Linked DNA regions of Homo sapiens: regions 2, 3, 4 and 5 are each reported to be linked to region 1. The links are microRNA targets in miRTarBase. Many come from high-throughput screens and were not tested one by one. Region 1 holds a microRNA gene; each other region holds the end of a gene's coding sequence.

The links. Region 1 holds the annotated microRNA hsa-miR-342-3p (UCUCACACAGAAAUCGCACCCGU, at 2,531-2,553, shown strand). A microRNA usually pairs through its seed, bases 2 to 8, with sites in the 3' UTR of a target mRNA and lowers its output. Matches are read on the target gene's strand: a 7mer-m8 pairs with bases 2 to 8, a 7mer-A1 pairs with bases 2 to 7 and ends in A, and an 8mer does both.
Region 2: miRTarBase lists KCNK1 as a target of hsa-miR-342-3p. The part of its 3' UTR that is shown has no 7-base or 8-base seed match.
Region 3: the mRNA of GART is a reported target of hsa-miR-342-3p. The part of its 3' UTR that is shown has no 7-base or 8-base seed match.
Region 4: the mRNA of RAD54L2 is a reported target of hsa-miR-342-3p. Seed matches in the 3' UTR shown: 8mer at 1,478-1,485 and 7mer-m8 at 4,309-4,315.
Region 5: the mRNA of GALNT10 is a reported target of hsa-miR-342-3p. Seed matches in the 3' UTR shown: 8mer at 909-916.

The regions. Positions count from the first base shown.
Region 1 is chr14:100,107,185-100,112,287 of GRCh38, forward strand. It overlaps MIR342 (microRNA 342), which reads left to right and starts at 2,471; the gene lies at 2,471-2,569. All of the region lies in intron 3 of EVL (Enah/Vasp-like), which reads left to right. MIR151B (microRNA 151b) reads right to left here and starts at 2,330; the gene lies at 2,235-2,330.
Region 2 is chr1:233,670,962-233,676,064 of GRCh38, reverse strand. It overlaps KCNK1 (potassium two pore domain channel subfamily K member 1), which reads right to left. Exons shown (of 3, transcript NM_002245.4): 3 at 3,551-4,794. The coding sequence ends at 4,535. Among named protein-coding and RNA genes, the nearest start is that of MIR4427, 49 kb to the right of the region's middle.
Region 3 is chr21:33,499,338-33,504,440 of GRCh38, forward strand. GART (phosphoribosylglycinamide formyltransferase, phosphoribosylglycinamide synthetase, phosphoribosylaminoimidazole synthetase) reads right to left here. Exons shown (of 22, transcript NM_000819.5): 21 at 5,075-5,103; 22 at 4,596-4,978. The coding sequence ends at 4,787. Among named protein-coding and RNA genes, the nearest start is that of DNAJC28, 10 kb to the left of the region's middle.
Region 4 is chr3:51,662,737-51,667,839 of GRCh38, forward strand. It overlaps RAD54L2 (RAD54 like 2), which reads left to right. Exons shown (of 23, transcript NM_015106.4): 23 at 1-5,103. The coding sequence ends at 684. Among named protein-coding and RNA genes, the nearest start is that of TEX264, 6.0 kb to the right of the region's middle. RefSeq lists an enhancer at 1-451.
Region 5 is chr5:154,416,354-154,421,456 of GRCh38, reverse strand. It overlaps GALNT10 (polypeptide N-acetylgalactosaminyltransferase 10), which reads right to left. Exons shown (of 12, transcript NM_198321.4): 12 at 473-4,643. The coding sequence ends at 4,485. The region is part of intron 2 of SAP30L-AS1 (SAP30L and GALNT10 antisense RNA 1); the gene reads left to right. Among named protein-coding and RNA genes, the nearest start is that of SAP30L-AS1, 27 kb to the left of the region's middle.

The DNA.
Region 1 (5,103 bases):
TGTAGGTCCTCTCAGAACTTACTAGAGTCATCGTGTCATCGTCTCCCATTACTCCAGGAGAGCAGGGCCCTGGTGGCACTTGAGGCAAGACCCCAAGCTGATGGCACTCGACCACATAGTGGGAGTGAATTTTAAAGAAAATCCCCCTCAAAGCCTCTGCTGGTGTAGAAGGCAGATAGTCTAGGCCGGGGTAGGGCCAGTGAGTGGGAGCCAGGGAAGGAGGCTTGGGTGTCATGAGACTGGGTTTACATTTACAGATGACAAAACCAAGACCCAGTGAGGGGGAGGATGTGTGCAGGCCACAGGACAAGTCTGAGCAGAACCATGGCCACGCCCAACGTTCCTCCACTAGCATTCCCTCATGAAAGATCACTTTTTCCAGGCCAAGGACCAGAAAAGGACCAGGCTTTAGGAAGAGGGCCGAGGTGCATGGAAAGCAGTGCTGGTGAGGAGAGGGTTGAGTAACTGGATTTTGACTGTTTCTTCGCATTTGGTTCTCACTAATGAAATCTTGTCAGACGTGCCCCTGCTGCTGGATTGGGTGGGGGTGGGACAGAAGCATGTGTGGTCAAAGGCAAGTTTATTTGCAGTTTGGGGGTTGAATGCAGTGGATTTCAAACTGGATATTTTGAGGAGTTCCAGGGGTCCACCAAGGTATACCAGGGTCCTCGCCCTGATGCAACCAGAGTAGTTCTTCATCGACTTTATACAGTGGGACTCTGAAGAAAAGAAAAAGGAAAACCCCATAGCTTAGTGGGAATCCGGGCGAATTAAAACACAGGATGAAGTGCTTGTTCTCTTTGGCTCTTGGAGCATAATGTATGTCCTTTTCCTACTTGGTTTGCGTGTAATAACATCATTGGTATATTTCAAAATATGAAGCTCCTGGTGCTGGATAATAAATGTTTTCCCAGTTTTTCAACCTCTTATGTCCTTCATTGATGCCCAGTGGCCCAGGGGCTGCACCTTCAGCACAGTGTTGAGAAAGAGCCCCGGAAAGGGACTTACAGGCAGACCTTCCCGGGAAGAGTCAGGCCCAGCTCCATGTGCTCTTTGGAGGGGAGTGGAAGGTTGTTAAACCTCATAGCTCTTGGAGGTGGGGCTGAATTTTGCTTCTTGTAAACCTCTTTCCATTGGAAATTACCTCTTTCTCCCCTAAAGAGAAGGAAGTACTGGACTGTCTTCATCTCCCTGGCTGCCGAGGCCATTTGACACCTTGTGCCACCTGAGAGAAAGCAGGCCCAGCATGGCCCTGCCTGAGGGGAACAGGACGGCAAGCCCCTGGCCTCCTGCCTGCTCCCAGCTGCCCTCTGGCGGCCACTTTCTGAAAGCCGGATATGTCTCTTTGCTGACCCACCCCTGTTCTCACCCCAGGGCTCCAGATGTTGTATCAGGCAGGGCCTTTGTACGCCTCCATGCCAACAGCTACCCAAGTCGCACCGTCAGTCACACTCTTACTCAGGCTCTCCTGTGCCCCTGGCCCTTCTTCCCCTCTCACTTTTCCCCACACTTCTAAAATCTCACTCGTCCTGTCAGAATGTGGCTCCACAGATGGAGCCTTTCCCAGCCGCCCCGCTCCCTGTGACTTTGCACTCCCTCCTGCACTCCCACGGGGCTTTATTTTTGCCTCTGTCCTAACAGTCAGCTGCCACTTGGCCTGTCCTGCTATTCCCACTGCATGAATCTAGTCAGGTTGGAAATTCAGAAAGTGGCCTCTTTGTCTCTGGACCCCAAAAACCCACACATCGTCTGCCTTATAAGCTCTCAGTATATCCATCCCTGGCTGCAGGAACACACCAGGACCCAGAGGCTGCCGTGCCTGGAGCCCTGTCTCCTGACTCAGCCCAGGCCCCAGCTCAGCATCGAGGTCCTGTGGGACCATGTCCAGCAGTGAAGGCTGTGCATTGGCCTGAGCCCCTGGTCCCTCTGACTCACTGGCTCCCATTTTCACCACCTGCACTGCATATTCTCACCGTCTCTCCCCTGACACTCTCTCCCCTGAAGTGTTGTAATGGGGTTGTAACCCATCCACCTTCTCTTGTCCTTCTTCAGTCTGTCCTCCCTGGGCTGCGTCTAAAGGGGCCCCGCCCCTGCCCTCATGCATGTTCTCTCCATACTCCTGGTCACCTTCTGCTCATCCTTTGCCCTGCTGTTGTGAAGCCTTCCCAGTGCCCCAGAAGACCTCAGGCACCCCTTCCCAGTCCTCGCACACTGTTGGTGTCCCATTTGTTTGGACCCTGGGTTTGTTTGTCTAGACTGTGAGCTCCTCGAGGGCAGGTGTCTGTTTCTGTGTCTCGGGAGCCCTGAAGAGAGACTGACACATCAGAGGTGTCTGGTGACTGAACAAGCTCCCAGCTTGCGCCCATGTCATATTGTGTGCCTCTCATAGCCTGGCACTTCCTGCCATTGCATCCTTCTCTGCAGACTAAGATGGAGTTCCTGAACCAAGACCGCTTGCTGGCCAACCTGTGAAACTGGGCTCAAGGTGAGGGGTGCTATCTGTGATTGAGGGACATGGTTAATGGAATTGTCTCACACAGAAATCGCACCCGTCACCTTGGCCTACTTATCACCACCCCAAACAGAGGAACACGCCTTCTCCAGCCACAGCCTATGGAAGGGCCTTCAGCTGCTGTGGCCCCGAGGTGTGCATACTGTGGAAGGAACTTCGGACGTGAACTCGGATCTGGTTCCAGTACCAGCTGTGCCAGGAGTGTGCCCTTGGGCATGTCACTGACCTAAGACTCAGTTTCGCCATCTGTGAAATGGCTGAATCAGACTCACCTCACAGGGTTGTTGTGAGGGTACCATGAGATGATGTTTGTAAACATTCTTTGTCACCTCTAAATTACTATAACAGTTTGAAGTTACTCTTTTTAAAAAAATTATTTGCAAAGGTAACTAACAATATCAGCCGTGCACAGTGGCTCATGCCTGTAATCCCAGCACTTTAGGAGGTCAGGGGATCACTTCAGTGTGAGAGTTCGAGACCTGCCTGGTCAACATAGCAAGACCCTTGTCTCTACAAAAGCATTAAAAATTAGCTAAGTGTGATGGCGTGTGCCTGTGGTCCCAGCTACTCAGGAGGCTGGGGTAGCAGAATTGCTTGAGCCCTGGAGTCTGAGGCTGCAGTGAGCCATGGTTACACCACTGCACTTCAGCCTGGGCAACAGAGCAAGACGCTGTCTCAGGAAAAAAAAAAAAAGGTAACTAACAATATCAACTCCTGTGTGGTGCCAGCAGCCATCACGTTGGGACACAGAGGGAAGCCAGGCTTCTTGGATCCTGATGGTCAGAGAACACTTTCTGAGGGAAGCGGGGCTTGAACCTGGGCCCTGCAGGGCTGGGGGTGAATGGGGGGATCTGATGAGGAGGAGGACGGCGGCACCAGCAGATCTTGGTGGTTTGGAAGTTCAAATCAAGATCTGAGAAGAGGCTCTGTCTGACCCTGGGGGTCTCCCTCGGCACATTGGTAGTACTGTGCATGCCTCACGGGTGCCCCTAATTTCAGAGCATCCCACCTGCATCCTGCTGCTGCCATTGTCCTCCTCAAAAGAGCTGCTGGCTTATTGCAGTTTACATCCTAGAGAAGAGAGGTCTCCTCCTTCCACCAGTCCCAGGATTATCTCCCTAACGCTAATGGCGAGATTCCTTTGGAGTTTTAGTCTTCTGTAGATACAGCCCAGGCGCCATGTGCCCAGTCAGGGTTTGAGATAGGTGGTGGTTCATTCCCCAGCCTTGCCTCACCAGCACCTTCCTGACGCCTCCTGGTAGGGCTCAGGAAGCAGCCAGCTGAGGTGTGCCTGCCATGGTCAGCACAGTGGTTGACAGAAGTGGCACAGATTGTGGGGGCAGGTGACAGGGTACCATGCCCTAGCTCCAGGCACCCGCTCCACCCTGTCACATGGAGCAGCTGTGAAACCTTGAGCAAGCCATTTCACCATTCTAAGCCTTAGTGTCCTCATTTTTTTTTTTTTTTTTTTTTTTTTGTGATAGAGTCTAGCTCTTGTTGCCCAGGCCGGAGTGCAGTGGTGCAAACTCAGCTCACTGCAACCTCTGCCTCCCAGGTTCAAGCGATTCTCCTGCCTCAGCCTCCCAAGTAGCTGGGACTACAGGCATGCGCCACCACGCCCGGCTAATTTTTGTATTTTTAGTAGAGACAGGGTTTCACCATGTTGGCCAGGCTGGTCTTGAACTCCTGACCTCTGGTGATCCACCCACCTCGGCCTCCCAAAGTGCTGGGATTACAGGTGTGAGCCACCGTGCCCGGCCAGTTTCCTTGTCTTTAAAATGGGTGTGACAACCACCTCACAGAGTTGTCATGAGGCTCAAATGATAAAATAGATGGGACTGTGATTTGTAAGCATATGGCACAGTGAATGCAAGTTGTTCCTGGAGTGCCCAATCCCTAGATACTGGGATCTCACCCCTCAGTCGTAGCCAGAGTCATTTCATTCTGGTGTGCCACCACCCAGAGCTAAGCCGTATACTCCTTACAGAAAGGAACAAACCCCTTCCTGGATGCTCTTGTGCCTGGATCTTGGCTCCCTGAGATTGCAGGGAGATAGCAGGAATTACTTTCTCCATTTTAAGAAGGAAGAAACAAAGGCTCACAGTGCTAAGAAACTTGCCCCAGGCCACTCTGGTGAATGCAGAGCTTAAGGCCCAGAGCCCAGATGTTCTGATTTCCAGTCCAGGTCTCTGCCCAGTGGACCAGACTGCCTCTCAAAAGACCCTGCTCAGCTGGCAGCCCCCCAGCTTTCTAAACTATAACCCGGCTTGGTCAGAGGTTGATTATTATAAACACTTAACCTGCCCCATCTTTCTAGCCACATACCCACATCTTCGAAAGTGAGGGAAGAATTCATTCACAGCTGTTTTCTTTTTTCCTCGCGTAGCGTGTATCATTTCTTTCCTAAGGAAGGAGTTTTACAAGTAGCCTCCTGCCAGCTTCAGCTCATATAGGATAAAAGCCAGCTCAAATATTTTGGTAGATAACTCCGGAGACTCAGAAAGCCAACTGCTGAACTTGAGATACAGTTTCCAGTTTGAGAGTGGACAGGCTGCGAGTGTTTGAGGCCCTGCCCCCTGCCTATCTGCTGC
Region 2 (5,103 bases), not on the chromosome of region 1:
ATAGAGTGGTCAGACTGTTCTACGCAGATGCTGAGTGCCACAGGATGCTAAGGGAATGGTGCAAGTGCTGTGGATGCTTTTACAGAAACTGAGAGACTGCTTACTATTTTAAGGCCGCCTAAGTGATTGCACAGTAATTATTGCCAAGTTGCATATGGAGACTTTTAAATTCTTTAATTGTGTCACCACAAATTGTAACGTCATTTATGTTGACACAAAATTTGGGTAGCAATTGTTAAAATAATTGAGAGGCCATTAGGCTGAGATGGCCTCAGAGCCCTTTGTTTCCTAGGTGAACAAATCCAGCCAAGCCCAATTCAACATAAACAGTTAAACAAACAAACAAAAAACCTTTACCAGTCAGAAACCACCAACAAGCCCAGGGATTTTCCAGTAGATCATATTCAATTAAGACAAATACGTAGCTGTAGCCAATCAAGCAATTGCTTTGCTTTGCTTGCATGTTCCGCCTATAAAACCCCACACCTCTTGCTGCTACAGTGAAATTCTCTGAACCTCTTCAGGCTTTGAATGCTGTCCAGTTCATGAATCCTTTAATTTCAAATAAACTCTGTTGAATTAATTTGTCTTAAATTTGCCTTTTAATACAACTCTCTCCTTTATTTTCTGTGGGTTGGAAAAACAGAGTAATAATTTTGTTAGAACTGTGTGCAAAGTAAGTATGTGTATGCCATGAGTGAAGCAAAGAGAGGGCTTACTTCTTTTTAAATGTGCTTTCCTACCAGGGCATGAAAAATACTTTAAAAAGCATTTTTATTTACTTCTGGGTCCTTTACTGCACTCCAAAAAGCTGAGTTTGCCTGACAGTACATATTAGATAAGAGAGATGTTAGGAAAATTGACTTCAGCAATTTTACATCTTGCCTCACACAAAAGGCTTTGATGCACCAAATTTCCACAATGTAAGACCCTTGCAAAATAAAAAAAAAAGTCACAATAGGAAAATCTCAAACATGCTACAGAGACAGATTTAAAAAGTTACTTGGCATAGTCAAATAAAGTAAATGGTATACTGTCTCATTTCAATTTCAACTATAAGTTGCTAAGAAACTTTTGTTTCTAAATTTGCCATATATACATTGCTGAAACTACATCCTAAAGGGACTGCCTTCCTAAATTGAGGATATCAGTATTTATCACAGCTCTTCCCAGCATGGAGGCTTTAACAACAACAAATACCAAAATAAATGTATTATGCCAGACAATCAGGAGGCTCTGCTCTCACTGAATTCTGAATAAGAGACAGATAATACTGTTCTAATTCTCCAACATGTGCTTCTGCCAATTTAAAACTTTTCTTCTTTGAAACAAATAGCTGTTTTTAGTAAGAGGTCAGTGTACTTTAAAGAGTTAAGAAGGTTTTGCATTGCCTATTTCCGTTATCTTGAGGTCTCCAGATTTGTAAATATCTCCTCATTCATTTTCCAAAAGGCCCATAAAGCTGGTTTGGAGAAAGTATGAGTGTGATTTTTTTCTCAGGTAAAAAAAAAAGTGACCCCATGTCAGTAATCTAAACATTACTCGATTTTTTTTGAAGTCAGACCAAATTTCTGTCTTCAGAAAATGTTTCTTTTTTCTCCCACTTGTCTTCTTCAACTTTTGAACAAATACTTTCAAAATATCTTGGTGGCATGACTACTATAGAAAGAAACCAGTGTCATAAATGGAGTGATCTGGGCTAAACTTTATCTGTCCTGGGAATCTTTTACATGATTCATTTAGAGACTACTCCCACCCCTTGGTCTCTCTTCCCTTGGATTTCTGAGAGCTTAGGAACTCCCACTCTGAGATACTCTGTGTTCTCTCCTCACGTGGAGTGTATCTGCTACTTTGAAATCAACATCCCTACCAGACACGTGTCACATTTAAGTTCACGCACAGGACCATGTCCTGGAATGATAAGGCTTTCTGCTGCTGTTCTACCCTGAGGGCATTCCGCAGGCATCTTAGGAACTCAATCTTGAAGGCTCAAGCTAAGCAAGTGAGTTCAGCTTGTACTCATCACCCAGAATTCTCTAGTAGTCACTTTTACCTCCAACTTCCCACTCTCTCGCCTCCAACTAAAGGGTTCCCAAGGTCAGTTCTGGCTTAGCTACACTGTTCATCTTCCACCTCCTTGTCATGCCTGCAGCAAGCCGAATTTCTGTTCTCTGAGAGGCTGACCCAGAGCTCCTCCTGGGTGACCAAGCTCGCTTCTCCCTGGGGACCAAAGGGCAGCATCATCGGCCAAAGACAAAAAGAAACCCTGGGGAAGACATCCTCCCTTACTTTCCTGCCTGCTAGGGTGGGGGCCGAGGCAAAACTTGCTCCTACTTTTCTACTTTGCCCTTCACATTAACAACAATCTGAAGGGCATTAAGGTTTAATGTGTTCTCTGCGGATTCAAACGAGTTCCTAAAATTAAGTACTACACTCTATTACTTATTAATCACATCTGATTCAGAAGTTTTTCTTCACGTACTTCCTCATTTTCTGGACTTTGAACTTCCCTCTCATGTTAGAGCCAAGCAGCTGTAGCAAACTAGCCATTATTTTTTCCTGCATTGCATAAAATAGAATAACACTCTCCAAGTGTAATCCAGCTTCTGTGATTTATATTGATGAGCATCTCAGGACTCTGCTCCACACCAAGGCTTGTGACCATCGGAAATGTTGCAGATCCAGTTATGGCAGGATGCATGCCTCTATTCTCCAAGGATTCTCTATTCTACCCTTAACCAATGATCTGGCCTCATGACAGCAGTCTTCTATTGCAGGGACATGGTCAGCAGGGAGGAAATATGCTTACGGGGCAGCACACTTGGATTCCTCTAAAAATCATATACTATCCCTCTAAAATCACCTATATTTTTCCATCTCCCTGTCCTCTAATCAGTAAGATATTTAAGCATGTGAACCCCTATTGAGATATTGGACAATCACTCTGTAATTCTTTCTGTGTGCATGGTAGTTAATAAATGTGTATGCCTTTTCTCATTAATCTGCCTTTTTGTGAGTTGATTTTTCAGCAAATCTTCCGAAGGGTAAGGGGATGCTTTCCCTTTGCCCTGCAGTTGGTAATAATTTACTCATGGCAGCACATGGTACAGAAGGTAGAAGGTTACTGAGCGAGTGACCCACTGTCAGGAGACTGGCCCGCGATCAAAGTGCTTGGCTGGCTCATCAGAGGGCGCTGATTTTGCACTGATTTTTACCAGCCCCTCAACCACCAACTCCTGGGCAGCCACCCATGGGAGGTAAGGCTCCATTGCGGGGGTCAGTGGACATTCATTATCACACAGGGGCTTTCTCATTTTCTTTTCTAAAATCCTTAATATAATAGTATCCTGTGTACGTCATCTAAATGTGACCTTTATGTTTTCTATGAAGGACTATATATATATATATACGTATATATATATATATATATACACACATATATATATATATACATATGTATATATATACATACATATATATATGTATATACACACACATATGTATATATATTCTACATAGAGGCACACTTCTGATATATGAAAGCATAAGATTACAACCAGCTGTGATTTTTATTTATTTTAGCTTCTAAATTTAAAATTCTCAGATTAATGTAACATAATCTGTTCATTTAGGGATTCGTGTTTAAGTTCTATGCTTTAGTGCTAGGTGGCTGCAAATCACAATGTACTTTCAAAACAAAGTATCTTAACCTTTTAATAAATCCTTTTCATAACCTGTTCAATTCAAAAAAATGTTTATAAACATGTTAGACATCTGACACCATTCTATCGCAAGAGGGTAGAAACATTTATTGCAGCAGAATACTATGGTTATTCACTCTCAAGTTTATTATTCCCCTTATTTTATTGTAGCAACTCTGGATTCTTTAGTATAAAGAGAAATCAAAAGAAACAAAATATCTATAGTCTTAGTTTCAGAACTACACTAGGATCTGGTGACCTAAACCATATGTACAGAATATAAACATATTTATACTTTATATGTACATAGTTAATGGTTACCTATGCATTATAAATAGTAAGTTTAACTTAGATTCTACAAAAATAATCATTTTGGGTGGGTACATGCAAACCAGTACACATAAACCTATTTATAAAACACATCTCTATGCTTTTTTTTTTTGCTTCTAAATATAAATTTTGCTATTTAGCCATCAGCTAAATGATCTAAATGCAAACCCCAAAGTTTCCAGTTAAAAGTATAAAATCTGCTTCTAACCACAGCAGCATACTGCTTCAAGTATTCTCCTCCTATGTAAGGTCGAGATAATTTTGTCACATATGAATTTTAGGTGGACATCTCATTTCCTCACATATTAGACATCCTGCTGGGGTCACAGCTTCTTTGTTCCATTTGTCTTTTTTTGTTGTTTTTTAATAAGACATTGCAAACAGTAGCTATTTCTTAAAGTGACATAATTTTCGCTTTTGCATTCTGATAAAAATGAACATACTTAAGCCTCTTCCTTGCACCCTGACCCTGGTGCTCTAGCATAATGCAACAAATCCTACGCTCAATGGTTTGCAGGGCCATCCACGCAGGCAGATGACTGGGTGGCCACAAAAGGCTCATTTTGCTTCTGGTCCTCTTTCATGCCAGCTGCCTGGTCTGTGATCGAGGAGAAGGACAGTTGGTCATGCTCTATGATGTGCACCTGATCCTCGTCCTTGTCCTTCTTCACATAGAACATTTTTCTGAATTTTTTCAGCTCATGGAGTTCACAGAAGGTTTCCAGAACTACCAACATGGCAATAAGGCCAAGTAGCAGGTAACCTGTGTGAGAAACAGGACACTGTCTTAGTGTGATCTCAACATGGATAAATCAAGTAGCGAGTGATTTACCTCCCCACCTCATGCCAACACAGTGTTTGTTAAGGAATAAACTCATTGCCAGTTTCTTAATTTTTAGAAGTGTTTTTAAGTTCATGGTTCAAAGAGGAACTACCCATTATTAAAGAGTGAAAGACAATGAAGAATGATTTAACCTCCTATGAACTTGGATTAGTTAGAATCACAGGCTGCAATTTTTGAGAAAAAAAAAATACTTGGGGCTGATGTGGCATTATTAAAGACACATAACAT
Region 3 (5,103 bases), not on the chromosome of region 1:
TATCCACCTTAGGCAACAACTAATCTATTTTCTGTCTTCTGGATTTGCCTATTCTGGACATTTCCTTATTAAATGTTATTCATTATTATTAGGATTTTTTTTTTTTTTTTTTTGAGACAGAGTCTTGCTCTGCCACTCAGGCTGAAGTGCAATGGTGCCATCTCGTCTCACTGCAACCTCCACCTCCCAGGTTCCAACGATTCTCCTGCTTCACTCTCCCAAGTAGCTGGGATTAGAGGCACCTGCCACCATGCCCAGCTAATTTTTGTATTTTTAATAGAGACGGGATTTCACCATTTTGGCCAGGCAGGTCTTGAACTCCTGACCTCAAGTGATCCGCCTGCCTCGACCTCCCAAAGTGCTGAGATTACAGGCGTGAGCCACCGTGCTCGGCCTCAGTTATTATTATTAGTTTTAGAGACAGGGTCTCACTTTGTTGCCCAGGCTGGAGTGTAGTGGCATGATCTCAGCTCGATTGCACTCAACCTCCTAGGCTCAAGTGATCCTCCCACCTCAGCCTCCCAAGTAGCTGGGACTACATGTGTGTGCCACCACACCTGGCTAATTTTTTTTTTTTTTTTTGAGACGAAGTTCCCCTCTGTCGCCCAGGCTGGAGTGCAGTGGCGTGATCTCGGCTCACTGCAACCTCCGCCTCCAGGGCTCAAGCAGTCCTCCTGCAGGCTTCAGCCTCCCGAGGAGCTGGGACTACAGGCACATGCTCCATGCCTGGCTAATTTTTGTATTTTTAGTAGAGATGGGGTTTCAGCATGTTGGCCAGGCTGGTCTCAAACTCCTGACCTCAAGTGGTCCACCCACCTCGGCCTCCCAAAGTGTTGGGATTACAGGCGTGAGCCACCGCGCCCGGCCCTTTCTTTCTTCTACTTCTTATTATTTTTGAGACAAGGTCTCACTCCGTCACCCAGGCTGGAGTGCAGTGGTGTAATCCCAGCTCAATGCAACCTCCACCTTCCAGGTTCAAGTGGTTCTCCTGCTTCAGCTTCCAGAGTAGCTGGGATTACGGGCAAGGGCCACCATGCCCGGCTAATTTTTGTATTTTTAGTAGAGATGGCATTTCACCATGTTGGCCTGGCAGGTCTCGAACTCCTGACCTCAAGTGACCCCCCTGCCTCATCCTCCCAAAGTGCTGGAATATAGGCCTGAGCCACCGCACATAGCCACACCTGGCTAATTTTTATATTTTATTCTTTGTAGAAATGGTTTCTTGCTATGTTGCCTAAGCTGGTCTGGAACTCCTGGACTCAAGCAATCTTCCCTCCTCGGCCTCCCAAAGTGCTGGGATTACAGGTGTATGGTACTGCACCCAGCCTGGACATTTCATATAAATAGAACTGTATAATATGTGGTCTTTTTTTTTTGAGACAGAGTCTCACTCTGTCACCAGGCTGGAGTGCAGTGGCACGATCTTGGCTCACTGCCACCTCCGCCTCCTAGGTTCAAGCAATTCTCCTGCCTCAGCCTCCTGAGTAGTTGGGACTACAGGCGCGCACCACCACGCCCAGCTTATTTTTTATTTTTATTTTTTCTTCTTTTTTCTTTTTTGAGACGGAGTCTCGCTCTGTCACCCAGGCTGGAGTGCAGTGATGCGATCTTGGCTCACTGCAAACTCTGCCTCCCGGGTTCACGCCATTCTCCTGCCTCAGCCTCCCGAGTAGCTGGGACTACAGGCGCCCGCCACCACGCCTGGCTAATTTTTTGTACTTTTTTAGTAGAGACGGGGTTTCACCATGTTGCCATGAAACATTTAATAAGGAAATCTCGATCTCCTGACCACGTGATCCGCCCGCCTCGGCCTCCCAAAGTGCTGGGATTACAGGCGTGAGCCACCAGCACCCAACCGCTTATTTTTATTTTTAGTAGAAATGGGGTCTCACCATGTTGGCCAGGATGGTCTCGATCTCATGACCTGGTTATCTGCCTGCCTCAGCCTCCCAAAGTGCTAGGATTACAGGCATGAGCCACCGAGACCAGCCAGTCTTTTTTTTTGGTGTTGTTGTTGTTGTTGAGAAAACGTCTTACTCAGGCTGGAGTACAGTTGTGCGATCACAGCTCACTGAAACTTCGACCTCCTGAGCTCAAGGAATCCTCCTACCTCAGCCTCCCAAGTAGCTGGGACTACAGGTGTGTGCCACCATGCCTAATTTTTGTTTTATTTGTAGTGATGGGGGTCTCACTATGTTGTCCAGGCTGGTCTTGAACTCCTGGGCTCAACTGATCCTCCTACCTGGGCCCCCCGTGCTGGAATTACAGGTGTGAGCCACCATGCCTGGCCGCATGTGGTCATTTATGACTGAATTCTTTTTTTTTTTTTTTTTTGAGACGGAGTCTCGCTCTATTGGCAGGCTGGAGTGCAGGGGCGTTAGCTCACTGCAACCTCCGCCTCCCGGATTCAAGCAATTCTCCTGCCTCAACCTCCCTAGTAGCTAGGACTACAGGTGCACACCACCACGCCCAGCTAATTTCTGTATTTTTATTAGAGACAGGGTTCCACCATGTTGGCCAGGATGGTCTTGATCTCTTGACCTCGTGATCCGCCTGCCTCGGCCTCCCAAAGTGCTGGGATTACAGAGCTGAGCCACTGCACCTGGCCCTGAATTCTTTCACTTAGCATAATACTTCAAGGTTCACCCACACTGTAGCATGTGTTAGTATTTCATTCCTTTTTATAATTGAATAGTATTCAATGTATGGATATATTTATCCATATATTTATCAGTTCATTTGCTGATGAACATTTGCATTGTCTCCACTTATGAATCAGTTTTTAACTGTTAATTAACATTTGGCTCCAGATAAAGGAAAATGATCTAACACTGTGGTAAATGTAAAATTTACATGGCTTGTGAAAGAATGGCTGTCAGAGATGGTCTCTTTTAAACAGTGGAGGAGGCAAATGTATGCATTAGAATTGCTGAAAAACACTTTGGGAGGTAAAGACAATTTTGGTTTTAAAAAGGCCAAAGGAGGGCCGGGTGCGGTGGCTCACGCCTGTAATCCCAGCACTATGAGGGCCAAAGCAGGCAGATCAAATGAAGTCAGGAGTTGGAAACCAGCCTGGCCAGCATGGTGAAACCCCGTCTCTACCACAAATACAAAATGAGCCGGGTGTCGTAGTGCATGCCTGTAATCCTAGCTACTCAGGAGGCTGAGGCAGGAGAATCACTTGAACCCGGGAGGCAGAGGTTGCAGTGAGCTGAGATCTTGCCACTGCACCCCAGCCTGGGTGACTGAGTGAGACTGTCTCATCAAAACAACTATATGAATGATATTTGCCTACTTTAATTGACAAGGGAATAGAGAGACACAGTGGATGAGAAATGTGCCTAAAGTTTTATGCTTGAATCTAAAAGCCACCAACTCTCCCCCTAATCCTCTAGTGACTTGCAGAGAAGTATGGATCTTTATAAACCACAGGATAATTAAACTTTACTGAAGCTAAAATCTGGGGATTACAGAAACTGTCAATAATTAGAGGAACGTTTAATGATACTTCAAAGCATAAAGGATACTATCCTTCAGAAATGGGAGCTATCCAGAAATCTTAACACACCAGATTATGATCACGATGGTCGGAAAAGTCTCAAATCAGCTATACAATATAAGGAAGAGATACTGCCTTGTTAGACTTGGGGAAGAGATAGTCACTTGACACTGATCAGAAGGAGGCTGGGCAACTTTTACACACCGGAATCTATAACCAAGATTATAAACGGAACCCAGGTGATACACTTGGGTTTGTCCTCATGTTTCTTTTCCTCATTTTAACTCAGATACATCCAGCAGTCATGGCTTCAAAAGCATATGATCAAAGATCAGAAAACCCATAACTTATTTATTTATTTATTTATTTATTTATTTATTTATTGAGATGGAGTCTCGCTCTGTCGCCCGGGCTGGAGTGCGGTGGCATGATCTCAGCTCACTGCAAGCTCTGCCTCCCGGGTTCACGCCATTCTCCTGCCTCAGCCTCCCAAGTAGCTGGGACCACAGGCGCCCGCCACCACACCCAGGATAATTTTTTTTTTTTTTTTTTTTTGTATTTTTAGTAGAGACGGGGTTTCACCGTGTTAGCCAGGATGGTCTCGATCTCCTGACCTCGTGATCTGCCCGCCTCAGCCTCCCAAAGTACTGGGATTACAGGTGTGAGCCACCGCACCCAGCCCATTATTATTTTTTGAGACAAGTCTCGCTCTGTTGCCCAGGCTGGAGTGCAGTGGCATGATCTTGGCTCACTGCAACCTCCACTTCCTGGGTTCAAGCGATTCTCCTGCCTCAGCCACCCGAGTAGCTGGGATTACAGGTGCGTACCACCACACCCAGCTAACTATTTTTTGTATTTTTAGTAGAGATGGGATTTCACTGTGTTAGCCAGGATAGTCTCGATCTCCTGACCTCATGATCCGCCTGCCTCGGCCTCCCAAAGTGCTGGGATTACAGGCGTGAGCCACTGTGCCCAGCTGAAAACATAAAACTTATAAACATGGAGGTGATTCATCATGTTGTCAGGCAATACCAAAAAAAAAAAGAGGGGGTGACGGTTAGAAAAAGAGCATAAAAAAGACCAAGAAAACTGTATGTCTCAGATATGCTGCACTAACTAGTCTTGTTTTTAGTGAGTCTCTATTTATTAAAAAAATAGATGAAGTAAGGGTGAGGTCTTTTTTGTCTTTTAGCAGTTTTTCTTTTGGGCCAAGTCCATGATAAAAAACCACCATGCAAACAGCAAATAATTCTTTCTAAACTGGCCCCATTTCTGAATTAAAAGGCTTCATTCCTCTTTAACCCAACAGATCTTGCCATTTTCTCCAAGCTGTACAGTTCCACTGGCCACCAGCTGAAGGGCTGCAGGAAATATTTTATGTTCTGCTAATTTTACTCTTTCAGAAAGAGTTGCGACAGTATCACCCCTCTTCACGGGAACAGCTTCTTGCAAAATAATCTGTCCAGCATCCACATCTTCCTGGAAAAGTAAGCAAAAGTTTTGAACATTACCTTCTAGCCAGTGTCATTTACATCTGACTACTAATATTATGTTGGTAGAAAAAGACATACTCACAGCTACAAAGTGTACAGTGCACCCAGTAA
Region 4 (5,103 bases), not on the chromosome of region 1:
CCCTGTGGTGACAGGCACCCAGTGCTGGACTTAAGGGGCCACAAGCGAAAGTTGGCCACACCACCTGCTGCCCAGGAGTCATCCCGCCGGCGGTCCAGGAAGGGTCATCTGCCAGCCCCCGTGCAGCCGTATGAACACGGGTATCCAGTCTCTGGCGGGTTTGCCATGCCACCCGTCTCCTTAAACCATAACCTCACCACCCCCTTCACCTCCCAGGCTGGGGAGAACTCCCTGTTTATGGGCAGTACCCCCTCCTACTACCAGCTGTCCAATTTGCTGGCAGATGCCCGCCTGGTGTTTCCAGTGACTACTGACCCTCTGGTGCCAGCAGGCCCCGTCAGTTCCTCTTCCACGGCTACCTCAGTCACTGCCAGCAACCCCTCCTTCATGCTCAACCCTTCTGTGCCAGGGATACTACCCAGCTATTCACTCCCATTCTCACAGCCACTCCTGTCCGAGCCGAGGATGTTTGCGCCTTTTCCTTCCCCTGTCTTGCCCAGCAACCTTTCGCGGGGCATGTCTATCTATCCAGGCTACATGTCCCCACATGCAGGCTACCCAGCTGGTGGCCTCCTACGGTCCCAGGTGCCTCCATTTGACTCTCATGAGGTTGCCGAGGTTGGGTTCAGCTCCAATGATGATGAGGATAAAGACGATGATGTGATAGAGGTCACTGGGAAATAGCTAGGGAGCCCCTCCCCACCTCACTTGGGGCCCCCAGCAGGTTGCCCACCAAGCTGAAAGGCAGTGATTTAGACCTTTTGAGAATAGGACACTTGGCAGGAGGGAAAAGGAAGAGGACAAAGGAGGGTGGTTGGCCAAAGTGGCAGAGCTCTGTTGCTGTTTAACAAAAGAGGCAAAAAAAAAAAAAAAAAAAAAAAAGTCCAACACAGCAGCAATAGCGGGAAATCAGGGACCCAAAACAGGGATGGAGGGGCAGTGCAGCCTCTTTTCCTTCCTGCCTTGCTTATGCTGTCTGCTTGCTTGCTCGCCCATCTGAGTGTAGAAGCGCACATCCCATTTCTGTCTTTGGGAACATTCTTTCCCAAGAGAGCTGCCTTACTAGGTGACTTAGCTTGGCCTGGGGAGGGGAGTGAAGGAAGGGAGAATGAGTGAGAGAAGGAGGGTGGGTAGGGGGAGCAGACTGTGATCCCATGTGAAGTGGGGTCTTTTTAGGGGGTGGGAAGGAAGCTGACCAGGTATGTGTGTTTGTGAGTGTGTGTGTGTATGTTTATTTTGTATGTGTATGTATGGAACAGAGCAGGGGTGAAGGTGGGAGGGGAGGGAGGGAAGAACTAAGAGGGAAACTGAAAAATGAATTTATCTTTCTTTAAATGGAAGTCAGTTTGGTGGTTCATGGCACCTAGTGTGAACATCAGGGTGAGCCCAGAAGAGCCATGGAAATAACAAGTTTCCTTCGGGATGGGTGAAGAGAAGGCCCAGCTAACTCAAGTCCCTGGTATTCAGAGCCACATTTGTGTGAGAATTTGGGGAAATTCATGAGAGAAAATGGGCATTACCAATCTATGTCTCTTAACCCCGGTGGCTATCTCTGAGCAGCTCTCCCTTTCCAGCTTGGAAGGTTGTCTGTGTGCAGAGGCTGGGAGGGAGAAGCACTGCAGTACGTGAATGAAAGGTCGCAGAGTTGTGGCTGGAAAATACATTTTTCACCAGGGTAGAACTGAGCCCCCAGCTGCCTATCCTGGTAGTCTTTTCTGTTCCTTTCCTTCCCCTTTAGAGAGCTCCATGTTAATTTATTTCTTATGGGCAATTATTTATTACTTGGACTTTTCATGTGTCTTGTTTATTTGGGGGTGGGGGGAGGTTAGGGGTAAGGAGGGTAGGTGATAGAAAGGGAAGTTTTAAGATATCCCAGACCCTATAGCCACTGGTGAAAAACAATCCTGGATGGATGGTAAATTGACCAGGGGAAGAGTTAGGTTTGACCAAGGTTTGGATTAAACAACTATATTTTTGAGAGATGGCTTTTCAGGAAGATCAGGGAATCCTGAGACTGGATAGTTAGTGGAGGGTGGGACTCATTCCACAGAAATCGAAAGTTGTGATCATGGAGTTTGCAATTGGGAAGTAAGAGACCCCAGATTTGGAGCTGTGTCCTCCTGGGATGATGTTAGATGTTGGCTCTCTATGCTGAATAGTGAAGCTGTGGATAGGCGGTTGCTGGGTTGAGGGACTGTTGATTTCATGTTCGAAAATATCTTCAGGTGGTCCATGTAGGCCTGGTGTCTGCTGCCTCCATCTTTGAAGGAACATGGAGGAGCCCTTTCTCTGTAGGAGCCCTAAGTCTGGGTTTTATCTTAAAAGAACACACCAGTCATTCTGGGTCTCCCCTTATTGCCATTGCCAGGGGAGGGTCGTCTAGTCCTTAAGCATAAACACTGGCTGTCTTCCTACTGGTGTCCCCGCCCCCTCTGTATCCCCCACCCCAACACTTTGCCAGACAGTTCTTTATGATGAACAAACTTTGGCTTTAGAGCTTTACCACTTACCCATGGCTCCCTCCTTACTGGGCAGGTGGTGTACCTGCCTCTTCCCAGCCCAGAAGGCAGCTTAGTCAGGTCATCCCAGTAGTAGCTCCTACAGCTCTTCTGACCAGCCCATTTCCATCTTTGGAGGGCCTTAGCAGACTCTGGGGTATTGTCCTCAGAGAAGAGACAAGGAGATGATGGATGGGGTGCATGTGTATATGTGTGTTTGTCTGCTGTCCAATAACACCAAAAGTGGAACTTAAGAAGCTTTGTGTTTTCATAAGCACCCTGCCAGACACTTAACTCTTCTACTCATGGAAGCCTTAGATCTACAATTTAGCTATGCAAATTATTTTAATAATTTAAAAATAGCAGTTCCAACCAGTGCTTTCTCTTTCAGATGCATCCCAAGAATGGATGGTGAAGGGACTCAGTTGGAGTGAGCTCTCAGGTTGAGGCTGGTGCAGTAGGAGTGAGCTAGACTGAATCTCCAATTTATGGGACACACTCAGAACCTGGGTTACACTGATGCCTCTCAGGCCCTGGAGCACTGGGATCCCAGAGATGCATGTGTGCATGTGTATGTCTGTGTGTGTGTGTTGTCGGGAGAAGGGGGTAGTATTTCTGTGTTCACTTCTAGGAAATCACTGTACTAGCCTCCAAGAATCCGGAAACCTTCCCAGCCGGGAACTGAAACCATTCCCTGGAGGGATGGGCTTGGCTTTTGAAGTTGACAGAAAGTAAATGGGTATTCTGAGAGGCAGCACATGCCTACTGTCTATCCAGTGTTCCAGGGACTGGGTCTTGCTTCTACTCAGCAGAGGCCATCATTCTGGGAGGCTGACCTGACTAGAGAAGGCTTTCTTTTATATGTGCAGTTTCTATTGTGTAGAGGGGTTGGGGGTGGGATCATGGGAAATTGGAGTGCTACCAGGTCCATGGTTTTTGCTTTTTTTTTTTTTTTTTTTTTTTTTTTTTTTTTTTAAAGAAAATAACCTGAAAACACTTCTGACTTTTCCACTGTCTCTTTATATGTGCTGATAGGCAAATGTGCATGCACACCAAACATAAGCATGTTTGTGAGGGAAGCAGGAAGTATCTCAGAGCCTAAGAACCATGTTTTATAGTTTCTTTGATCATAAACACTTGGTGGTGTCTTCCACCCATTATCCAGGCCTGAGGGGGGCAGGGTGGCTGGTGATAAGAGGGAGGGCAGAAAATCAGGCCTAGGCGTTTTCCCTTACCATTGTCTTCCATGGAATGTTTTCAAGGGCCTCTCAAGCCCCATTCATCTGGTTTAGCCAAGTTCTCAGCCTGGGGAACACAGTACTACTTAATGATTGAGGTTTACCATTTATAGTGATGCTTGATTTCCTTTTCTTAATATATTTGTAGATAAAAATTGAACAGGGACAAAGTAGCTATTTAAGAAAGGAAGTGAACCATGTTGGGTCATATCATTTTCTTTAGATTGGATATCTATGAAGTCCACACCCCTTTGAGTTATGCTTTTTAGGCATCTATCTCATCATCTCCTGATTTAAGGATAATTCTGTCTGGTCCTTGGAGCTCTCTTCCCTAGGAATTAGTGTGTGGAGTCTCTATATGCTTGTGATCCTTGGAGCTCTCTTCCCTAGGAATTAGTGTGTGGAGTCTCTATATGCTTGTGATTCACAACTAAATATGAAATTTCTCAATTCAGGAGCAGGAAGCAAAGTGCTGGGGTACAGTTTTGCAGATTGGTTGAAACACTTAGCCAAACTTAAGTGGCCTGGGTAGGACCATCACTCCCAAAGTTGTCAGCAGAGAAGGGCCCTCTGTGTGAGTCTATTCAAACCTGGCATTGCTCTGAAATTGAGTCCTCATCCCATGGGGAAGGTCTTCTGGGGGCTTTACATTCCTTGTTACTAGTGTTCTGGATATTACCTTCTGCTTCCCACTTCCTTTTTTTTTTTTTTGAGACAGAGTCTTGCTCTGTCACCCAGGCTTGAGTGCAATGGTGTGATCTTGGCTCCGTGCAACCTCCACTCCCGGTTTCAAGCGATCCTCCTGCCTCAGCCTCCCAAGTAGCTGGGATTACAGGTGCACACCACCATGCCCAGCTAATTTGTATATTTTTTAGTAGAGACGGGGTTTCACCACGTTGGCCAGGCTGGCCTTGAACTCCTGACCTCAAGTGATCCACCCTCCTCGGCCTCCCAGTGATGGGATTACAGGCGTGAGCCACTGCTCCTGGCCCCCACTTCCTTTTGATTTCTCAGATCAGTCTTTCCCTTCTGAGCCATGGCCTTCTGTGCACCCAGCTCAGTGGCTCTTCACCCCTAAAACTAAGTGAAGTCATCCTTCCCCAAAAGGACCCCTGGGAGATGTTCTGGCCCTCTGCTGACTACTCCCAGGAATCAGCACCTCAAGGACTATTTGAGAATGTTGTGCTCTCTATTGGTCACCTTGAGACTCCGTTCCCCTGCTGCCAACTCTTCTCTTCTGCCCTGTGTATTCTGCTGTGATCCCCTTAACGGCTTTTCTGTGCTACTAGCTTAGCCCTAGGCCTTTTATGAATACCTGAGTCTTATAACAATGAACTTCTTGAGCAGGCAGTGTCCAACTTCTTTGC
Region 5 (5,103 bases), not on the chromosome of region 1:
AAAAAAAAAAGTTATGCTTATTTCATATTGTCACTGCCCTCCTGAGATCCTCCGCTCCTGGGTGTGACCCTTTGTGGGCTGCCCCACGTAACTCTTCAAGCTAACCTCCTTCTGCTCCTCCAACACAGAAACTTCTACTTACCTCAGGGCCTTTGCACTAGCTGTTCCCTCTGCCTGGAACTCTGTTCCGGGAAATCATCTTGGTTCACCCTCCTTCATGTCTTTCAGCTCTCACCATTCTAGCTAACGTTGACCCCCACTCCAGTCTCTAATATATCATTGCTTTATACCCTTCATAGCCCTATTTGCATCTGAAATCATCTTAGTTGTTTTAGGTCTGCCTTTCACTCTAGAATGATGGCTGTTGGGAGTTTTTAGTACCCAGCAGAATGCCTGAGTCCGAAGTAGGTGGTCTACGTGAAGAATGATGAAAAGAAGAATGACACATGAGAAGGAAGAAGGCAGAGACCACTTTAGAGAAAGTCTGGAGGTTTACTCAACAACGTTCACAATCACAATTGTACATGGTAAATCAGTCTTTCACAAAGGCTTATTTTTCCAGGCAGGAGGAGAGGCTGGTGGTCTTGAGCTTTTGGCCTGGAATTCCAGTCTGAATTTTCAAATATTCCCTGCCTCCAACCCCTTTGGGATCCTAGTCTTCAAGCCAATAACAGAGCAGGAGTCTGACCCTGTTCTGTTGCCTGGCACGGCTGAATCAAAGCCATTCTGGAAGCAGATGTTAAGGTGAACTTGTCACTTGGTATGTAGGTCCGACTCCCATCCCAGAGGTGGCAGTGGGCCTTGGCTCAAGATCAAGTTTGAACTAAAATATTACTTGGATTTTTCACAAAGAGTGTCCGTTGAAAGCAATAAGGAATTCCAGAACAGAACTGCACTTCTTGTCCCTCTCTCACACTTACAAAGCTTCAGAAAACATTAAAAATGCATTACCTCCTAGGAATTACAAAAGATCACCCAACTGTACAAACTAGATATCGCTGAAGCAGAGACTCTGATTCCTCAGTTACTACTGTAAAGTGCTTTGCCACTCTTTTTGAGACTCCAGAGACTAGGAAAATGGAGATGCACAGAGAGACATAAGGAGCTGTTTTCCAAGACATCACCTGTTTCTTAAGGAAAAAAAGAAATTCAACTGGTGGGAAGTTTGAAAAGTGAATGTCATGTAGACTTTGGAAATCCATTTGTTACATCTTTAACAGAAACTGCTCTTTCTCTCCTGGACCGAATGTCACATCCTCTCGTCCGATTCCTCCTGTGGATGTACCCCGTTCTGCCTGAGCATTTTTTCCTAAAGGGAAGAATCAATAGTTTCTGACTGTTTTAACAGCTGAAAGCTCCAACTGGAGGCAGAAGATGGGATGGCTTTTCACACACGTGCGTGCAAGTTTAGCCACCTCCAAAGGCCTTGTTCTTAAAGCAACAGTGCTGTTTGCATTATGAAATGTCTCTGGAGTTCCCCTTTGGAAAGGCTGCTGGTGGGCCACATGGTCACGATACTTTCAAGTCACACCCTACTTTGTGACCTTATCCTCAGAGTAAAGGCTTTAGAGGAAAAGGGACCCCACAGTCTCACCCATTACCTGGCTGTCAGCATCTCCATATGCTCCTGGCTGAGTTTTATTGAGCATCAGCTGGGGATGTGAGCAGAAACCTGAATCCTTGAGACAGGTGGTTTTCAAAAAGGAAGCCATAACAATGAGTGGCTTAGTACTGGCAATTGATCAGTTGGTCCATGAAATGGAGCCAGTCAAGTTCTGTCCTTCCTTCCCCTCCCACATACTTTGTCAAGTCCCAGGACCTACTGATATGGGCTCAGCAATGACAAATGCCAGAGTGCTCAGAGGACACACCCATCCCTTTTCAGGGTGTGAACCCAGACTGGAAAGGAGAACCAAAGGATGGGAAAGGCAGGCCCGGGACGGCTTGCTGCTGCTCCTGCTTTCACAGGAATCCTGGTCATGCCAGGAACACTGCCGCCCACTTGGGGTGGGACTATGTGGAAGTCTAGCTAGTGCTCGGCACCCCTTAACCCAATGGTGAGAAACAGGACAAACATGCTGGGGGTTCAGAGGGTGGACCGCAGGGATGGCCCCCAAACAGGTCCCAGTGAGGTAATGCAAGGCCTCCTCTCGGGGGCTGATGAGGTCTTCTAGGCCACAGACTAAACGCACTGCCCAGCCTTTAGTTTGGAGTGTGACTTGCACTGACTGAAATAAATCTGACCTGTCACCCTTGGGGGACATCTCAGTCTCAGATCTTGCTCCAGACCCAACATCTCCTGCTTGAAATGAGACATTAAGAAACACACACTCATCCAGTAGGAACTGCACACACCACCAAAAACGTTCCCCTCCCCACAACCCTGCCCCTTTATGTTTGTCTAGCAAGGCACTAGGAAATGGTTCAAGTTTAGGGATTTGCTCTATATTTGCATTTTTCTTTTTAAAAGGCACAGTTTTTATTTTAACGACGCTGCATTGCTCTTTGATGATGAATCTCAATTCGACTCCTCAAACTGTCAACACTCTTGTTATCCTAGATTCTAGAAGGGGCCTCATCTTTTGACTTCTTTCTATAGAGGGCCACTTCTAAAGCTACAGCACTCATTTGGAAAAGGACACTGGGATCAACACGTAAGCGTTGCAAGCACAGGGGCCGCCTCTCTTGCAGACAGGTGGCCAAAGCAGGGCTTGTGCTGGGCCAGAAGTGGAAGTAATTCCTCGCCAGCTACACATTCAGTCTGACTGGTGGATGATTGGGAGTGTTTGTCCCTCCCTCCCCCAATAATTGATGGCCTTGAGATCTGCCAGCATCTCAAAGGCAGATTCGTGGCTCTGTTCCCAGACTTAGGTCTCAGTTATTTAATTGGTAAATGACACAATCAAGAGACTCAACACTAATTGGAATGCTGATTTCAAGTATTTCCTGGGCTAGCTGGTGGAAGCCATAGATTGTGGAATGTGATTTCCATTTCTGAATCAGTGGGTGGCAGGTTGGTTACAGAAATGCTTCCTATTAGTCTGGAGGCCCTCTAGGAGTCTGACATGTAATTAACAAAGCAAAAGGTAAACATGAAGGGCTGGCATGGAGCTGGGTGTATATCTGGCTGTGGGACGTCGGGTTCTTTTCTCCACTGCAAATGAGACTACAGTTGTGATGATGGTGGGAGGTTCCAGGGGTGCAGGTCTTCACCAAGGACCATGTTGTACCACAGCCTCTGCTGAGCTGAGGGACACATGTCCCCCTGCTTTCCCAACACCACCAACTTTGGATTTCACAGATTGTCTCTAGGCTGGGGGCTGCCTTGACTGTATTACACCTGGCTGGCTCCTTTAATCACAGCATTCTAGAAATCCATATTGGATGTGGAATACCAGAATCCTATGTAGCATCCTAGTTTGCAATCCAATTATAGAGTTCTTTAAAAATTCTGGAGTTCTGTATGAGAACTAGAACCATGATGAGGTCAGAGGCAGGCACTTTGCCCACAGTTGATCCTGGAGGCCTCCAGACTCTGTGAGGTGAGCACCTCGCAGCACCTCTGTTCCTCTTTTGAGGCCAGTAATTGCCTGGGGAAGAGAGACAGGGAAATGGAAGCATGGATCAGGGCAAATCAGCCAGCATTTCTAGTTTGGAGGTCTACCTGGCCTTTTCCGTGGGCTCAGGGCCATCTGAAACACTGCCCTGTAAAGCTGGTGCTGGGCTGTCCTTGTGCCTGGAGAGTGCTAAAATTGACATTTCAAATACCCAGAGAGCAGGGGGAGATATCCCGCATGTCCATAGCTGCAAAGAAATGTCTAGGGGGGCTCCCTCTTCTGACTCCTCACCTGGCAGCTGATCAGCATTCAATACTGAACACTCTTAGGGCCCCAAGTATGGCCTTTGACCGGACCAAATCACCTGGGGTTGTGACAGAGAACAGAAGCTGTGCAGTAACTGCAATGTTCCCCCCAGGACGGCAGAAACTAAAAAGCCCCAAGAGGACTTCTTTCTCTTCTGCTGCAGATGAGTGGCATCGATACTAAAAGCTGCCCCAAACAGGCAAATTTTACCTTTGTTTCTAAAGCACCATCATGTAGGAGAGCCATCTGAGGGCTGGGCAACCTCGCAGGACTCACTTTTGGGTGGCCTAGGCTACCTTGGTGTTCTCCCACATAATGTTCAAGGGGACATAGTGACAAAGTTGAAAAGGCTCTGTTGCTTTTCCGTGATGTCAGCAGGGATTAAAGCAGTCTCTGCTCCCTGTGGGGCCTCTTGTGGGATATGCTCTTCACCCTACCCCCACAACTCAGGGGCTCAAGGACCAGGCAGACCCCAGCCCCTGAATCAAGAGCCCTCTTCACCCTGAACCATTTGGCCAGCACCTTTTACACCTAGTGCCCACAGGGGCCCTGCCTCCCTTGAAAGAGGAAGTCTGCAGTGAGTGCCAGACCCTGGGGGGCCTGCCAAGGGGACATGAGGGCTCAGTTCCTATTGAATTTTTCCAAGACTGTTGAGTTGGTGTGTTCAAACAGCCACTGCTGGGTGAGAGAGGATGGGTTGCAGGTGTTCATGAAGATCCTATGGTCACTTTCACTGCAGTCCATGCAGCTGCCACTGACAGGGTGGTACAGGGTCTTGTCCTACAAAACATGGAGGTAATAAGCCAGACAGCACTGGAGACATGTGGCCAGTCAAACCACAGCAACAATACCAGCAATGAGAAAGTGAGGAAGTGACTGACTGACTAGCTGTTCATACACCTGTTGGTTTTCCTCCTGAGCTCACAAGCCGGATGCTGCCCAGCCTCCCTTGCAGCTGGTATTGCCGTGGGACTGGGTTCTGCCCGCTGGGATGTGGCCAGAAGTGATGCACGCAGCTTCCAGGCCTGGGACCTAGACACTGCCCACCTCCTGTCAGACCTCACTGGTCCTTATCGTGTGTGTGTGTGTGTGTGTGTGTGTGTGTGTGTGTGTATGTGCTTTCCTTTTATCTTTTATTTTTTTAATTTTTTTAATTTTTTTGAGACAGGTTCTCACTCTGTCACCCAGGCTGGAGTGTAGTGGCACAATCTTGGCTCACTGCAACCTCTGCCTCTCAGGT